Linked DNA regions of Homo sapiens: region 1 is linked to region 2. The links come from fine-mapping of genetic effects on gene expression. A gene starts in region 2. The other region holds a variant in brackets. All regions are shown on one strand. Distances are from middle to middle.

Evidence for each region. PIP is the estimated chance that this variant, and not a neighbour inherited with it, causes the effect.
Region 1: its variant is the best candidate, but not a certain one, in a credible set for the expression of LINC02016 in prefrontal cortex (ROSMAP, PIP 0.78).

The regions. Positions count from the first base shown.
Region 1 is chr3:127,444,926-127,447,829 of GRCh38, forward strand. No RefSeq gene overlaps it. Among named protein-coding and RNA genes, the nearest start is that of LINC02016, 56 kb to the left of the region's middle. The variant G/C (reference allele first, on the strand shown) is at 1,255.
Region 2 is chr3:127,389,506-127,392,409 of GRCh38, forward strand. It overlaps LINC02016 (long intergenic non-protein coding RNA 2016), which reads right to left and starts at 1,165. Exons shown (of 5, transcript NR_110147.1): 1 at 941-1,165. RefSeq lists an enhancer at 2,187-2,904.

The DNA of each region.
Region 1 (2,904 bases), 55 kb after region 2:
CAGCCCTTCCACCTGACGACCCAGTGACCAAGTGGACGACCCATGCCAAGTCCAGCACCCTGGGCTCTCAGGATCTCAATCCTCCACTCCATCCCAGCCTCCCAGGCCCTCAGCCACACCTTTAGGGTCAGCACCAGAAACCTACTGGATCTCCAACCAAATACCAGTTCTCCCTGATTGCTTTCATCCAAGCTCCACCATACCTATTCCTCCCCTTTGCAGAAACTCTCCCCCAATGGGAAGCTGTGAATCGTAGGGGTGGGCTCTGGAGCTGGACTGCCTGGGTTCAAATCCCACCTGCGCCAATGACTGGCTGTGTGACCTTTCTGTGCCTCGATTTCTTTATGTACAAAAGGCCTGAGGATGGCTCATCTTCATTCATTCAATAGTTGCTGAGTACCTGCCGTGTATCAGCCCCAGGACTGGGAACTGGGCATGAACCACGTAAAAGGAGACAAAACCCTTGTCCTCACGGAGGGAGAAACAACAGAACATGATAATTAAAATACACAACATAGCAAAGAGTGGTGGTTAAGCACTTGCAGCAAGACCAGGCTGGCCCTGACTGACCCAGCCAGAGCAGACACAACGAGCCACTTTTAGATTCTGACAGTGTGTGACCTGCATGGACAATGAAAGGAAGAGTCAGGGACAGTGTCATGTCCAGGGTCCCTGTCCTGCACACCTAAAATGATGCCACCAAAGCCAAGGGCCTGGACGACCACAGTCCGAGTTGGGTCTGAGTTGTGGGACACCCCATCACCGAGGAACCTGACACAGCTTGACTGCAGTTAAGTGGCTTTGAATTCCACAGCTCTATTCTGCTGGGGACCCAGGAGGCACTGCGGAGCTGCCTCAGCACTGCCTCCCAGGGGAGAGGCCTCCATCCTCCGGTGTTCCAGGAGGACTGCAGGGTGTCGTGCCAAGCTGGGTTAGGCTGTGGTTCAAGGGTGGGAACCTTTGCTGCGTGGCCCTGTGGCTGCATGCAGGGCGCCAAGGCGGAGCCGTTCCCTTATGCAGGGATGGAGGTGGTGTTATCTTTTTAAATTGGATGCCCAGAGAAGGCTTCACTGAGAAGGTAAGCTTGAGCAAATGCCTGAGTGAAGTGAAGAAGCAGGTTATGTGAGTATCTGGGAGAAGATGGTCCCAGGCAGAGGGAACAGCAGGATGCAAGGCCCTGAGGCAGGGTGGGGCTACATACCTGTGGAAAGGGAAGAAGTCACAGTGGCCAGGGTGGAGTCAGGAGTGGGAGGA[G/C]AGGCAAGAGCCAGTCATGCAGCGACAGGTGCCTAAACATGTCGAGCCCTGAGGGCCAATGTTGGGACTGAATTCTACTCCGAATAAGGTGAGAATCGGTATGGGGCTTAGGGAATAGACTGAGGGGCAAGGAGATGCCTCAGGAGCTTTCACAACAGTCCAGGCAAGACATAATGTCACTTGGTCCAGAGTGAAGGAGCAGAAGTGGTCTGATTCTGCTAATATTTTGAAGGTGGAGATGACAAGCTCTGGGTGGGGGATCATAAGAGACAAAGAGCCAAGAATAACACCAGGTTTTTGGCCTAAGCAGTCAGAAGGAAGAATGATGGGAAAGGCTGCAGAAGAAGCAGGATGGGGAGAGGTCAGGGGCTTGGTTTGGGACCTGTTGAGTTTGAGGCTCCCAACTGACCTTCAAGTGCTTGTCACATCGGCAGGAGGCAGGGTCATGGACTAGAGTGGACACAGGCCCAGGGTACAGCAAGGGCCAGGTGTGCAGCAGTCACCCGCAAAGGTGAGTTCCTTCTCCTGTTGACAGGTCTACTTTCTTACCTGTTAGAGGAAAGTGTCTCTTTCTCTCTTTCCCTCTTACATTCCAGGATCCATGATTCAACCACCCCCCTCGCTCTTGCCCTATCATCCTGCCATTGTACCTCCCATCTGGCAAGAACTCCAGCCTCAATGGATTCATCTGCCTGCCTGCTCTGTGCCTGTGCCAGACTGTGGGACACTGTTGGAAAGCATCAGACCACGCGGGGGACTGGTGCCACCATGCATGCCCTGGGAATTGTAGGCACTCCCTCACCACCCACACCCACCAAGTTCAGGCACTCTGACTCCTTCTTGTATCTCTTATCCATAGCTCTCCTCCATCCCCACTGGCTAAATAATAGCCACCAAAGTTGTCCATGCCCACACTGGAGTGGTGGTGCATGTCTGTAATATCAGCTACTTGGAAGGCTGAGGCAGGAGGATCGCTTGAGGCCAGGAGCTAGAGACCAGCCTGGGCAACACAGTGAGGCCCCATCTCTAAAAATGGTTTTAAAAATATTCACCAGGCATGGTATTGCATGCCTGTAGTCCCAGCTACTAGGGAGGATGAGGCAAGAGGATCCCTTGAGCTTGGGAATTTGAGGATACAGGGAGCTATGATTGCACCACTGCACTCCAGCCTGGATGACAGAGTGAGACCCCATCTCTAAAAAACAAACAGCTGAAAGATGTCTGTGTCCTAATCCCTGGAACCTGAGAATATACCAACTTACGTGCGAACAAGATTTTGCAGATGTGATTAAGTCAGGGATTTTGAAATGAAGAGCTTATCCTGGGTTATCCAGGTGGCCTCAATGCAACCACAAGGGTCCTTATAAGAGGGAGGCAGGAAGATCAGAATCAGGGAGAAGAGATGTGATGACGGAAGCAGAGGCTGGAGTAATGAGATTTGAAGACGGAAAAGAGGCCACAAGCCAAGAAATGCAAGTGGCCTCTAGAAGCTGGAAAAGCTATGAAAACAGATTCTCCCCTAGAGTTACCACAAAGGAAGGCGACTTGGCCAACACCTTGATTCTAGTCCAGTGAGGCCCATTTCAGACTTCCGACCTGCAGAGCTATAAGGCAATAAGCTGGTGTTGTTTTAAGCGTGGAGTTTGTGGC
Region 2 (2,904 bases):
AAGGCGAGGAGACCCAGACCCCACTCTCCTGGGCTCTCTGTCTGGCCTGGGATCCAGCTAGCCCTCAGGTCACCACAAGAATGGTGACTCATCCATCCATTCACTCTTCCGCTCGCATGGCAAGTATTTCCTGAGTCCCTACAGTGCGCCAGGAACTCTAAGAGTCACAGGGCATACCACCGTGAGAGCACCAAGATGTGCAAGCCCCTCGGGAGAGGGGACAGGGCAGGGTCATCCCATCTGGGGCCAGGAAGGGCTTCCTGAGCCAGTGCAGATGACGCTCAAACCCAAAGAATGTGATGCAGTTAACTGGACAAAGACTTGGTAGTGGGGTGCAGGGGAGCAGAGGAGAACGTTCTAGAAGTGCTAAGGCCCAGCAGTGGCTGGGAGGGCCTGAAAGAAGGCCAGAGTGTCTGGGGAACACAGATGTGGGGGAGCCCTGGTGGGAGCCTGGAGGAATGGGCAGGGCCAGCTTGAAGGGTGTCCTTGGACCCTGAGTGAGGATTCCAAAGGCTTTTGGGGAGACCAGGTGGGCATTAACCCCGTCAGGCCACTCCCACCTGCTCCACCTGGTTCCAGGTACCAGAGACACCCCATCAGCAGGCACAGGGGCCCCAGCAGCAGCCACATCTCCACAGCCTGACCTCCCACCCCCACAGCTCACCCCAAGCCCAGGTGTTCTGAAAACAGCCCACACCTCTGCACCCCCAGCGTAGCCCACCCTTTTGGTCCTCTTCTTGTTAAAAGACTTACCCTAAAGAGGCAGCTCAGACTCCACCTCCTCCAGGAAGGCTTTTCTGATGCTGTGCAACCCCAAGCTGGATGCTACTGATGGTTTGTGCTGGCAGAGCTGCCCCTATGTCCCTTGATTCTATTCCTGTATCACTATTGACAGTCCCACAGAGCAGTGACATCCCCGGGTCAGGGGCTCTGCACTCACCTGGGATGCTCGACCCTGCATGGGTCACAGTGGCAGCTCCAGAACCGCTAGGTAGGGTGGGGGCTAAATCCCGGCAGGCCGGGTGTCACTATGCTGTGCTGCATTGGCACTGTGTTCTCCTTACACAGGTGACCTGGGCAGGGGCTCTGAGGAGCCGGTGGCGAGTCTGAGGTCTCAAGTGCCCAGGCCCTGTGTGCAGCTACAGAGTTAGGGGCCGGCAAGTGCAGGATTGGCTGTGGAGAGGCACAGGCTGAATTTGGCCCAGCGTAAGCGTTCTGGGAATGTGTGGTGTTGCTACTGGGACTTGGGCTGCCTTGGGTGTGGCTGCATACCGTGGGCCCAGGGAGGTGGGGAGTGGGGACTGCGGGGAGTCTGGGGAGTCACTGAAGATGCAGGTGCTGAAAGACACAGCCATCTTCAGGCAAGCCCGGGCTGAAGGGTGCAGGAACTCAGACTGTCCTGGGGGTTGGGGTGTTTCCCAGAGGTGCTCGTGCTGGGTAAAGGCCAGGGGCAAAGGGAGGAAGCCCAGCCCAGGGTTCGTCCATGCCACACCTCAGGGTCAGGCTCCCAGGGAGCCATGCTGAGCATGGCAGTGAGCACAGAGGTTGGAGCACCACGTCCTGGGGCCCACACCTTCACCTCTTCATCCATAATAGACACAGTGGGACCCCCTGGCCAGTGGGGAGGAGGAGGCACAGAGGCTGCGGGAAGCTCCCAGCACAGGACCCTGGGCTCCATAGTGTGGGTGCCGTTTCCTGCAGAACAGGGACTCAGACATGGACAACCAAAAGTTATCAGAATTGGGGTGCTTAGTAGGGACTAGATCCTGTACAGCCAGCCAAAGAGTAACTAAGCGCCCACTGTGTTACAAGTGCTTTGTCTACTTAGAGGTGAAGGCACTTACCTCTGTGGCAGATGCAGGGATGTGCCTCAGACCTGCTTCATGGAAGGATACACTGCCCAGCTGCTAGGGGCTGTAACCAGACGTGCTCAGCATCACCCCCAGTTGCAGACAGACAGCACCCCTGTGCCATCCTCCCCAGGCCCATGTCCTATGACTGAGCCACACAGGCCTGGACAACCCCCTGCTCAGGACAGCTCTGGTCTACTCCAGTCCCAGGCCCAAAGGGAGTCCTGGCTGTCCTTGTGCCAGCAGTGAAGCTCGGTGTCTCCTCTGCCTGCTCCTGCTCCTCCCTCCCTGCCCCAGACCCGGTCCAGGCCCTCCTGAGAGCCCCTGTAGCTGGTCCCAGGCACCGACACCAGGCTTCCATGGGGCTGATAACCAGCGGGCGAGGTGACAAAACACCAAGTCAGAGGGAGCTTTCCAGGCTCTGCTGCAGGAGCTGTGCAGGCGAGGCAGAGAGCAGCCTGGGGGTGTCCAGAAGGATGTCCCTCGAGGACAGACACTCACATGGAGCCCTGGAGGCTGCAGAGGACACAGCCCTGCTGTGACAGCCAGGAAACAGTATCCCAAGCCATGGGGACAGCAAAGGCTAGGCCGAGGTCTGATGCAGGAGGAGCTGGAGGGCAGAGGGCGGGCGGAGCACCGCCTCGGGAACGAAACAGCTGGGGAACCTGGAGGGCACCTGGATGGTTACCTCTAGGTCACTGTGGAACTGATCTGCCTGCATCCTCCCTCCTGTTTCTGGGGCTGGCCAAGGCACGCTGGAGCTGGGGCTGGGGCTGGGGCTGGGGCTGGAGCTGGCAGGCCGAGGTTCCCACCCCACAGGCACCGGAGATGAGTTGGTAAGAAAAGGGCACCCTCTGGCTGCACTGATTCTGCTGAGGGCTCGGAGGCTCATCTCCCTGGGGGCAGCCCCGGGCGCAGCTGCTCTAAAATCACCCACTCAGCCATTTCACAGGCAGAAATCCTTCGCTTCAGGCATTTGCATCCAAAGCTGTCCGCAGCCTACTCCCCACCGTGGCTGGGTTTAATCTGCTAGCACTGGGGCTGTGGGGCTGGG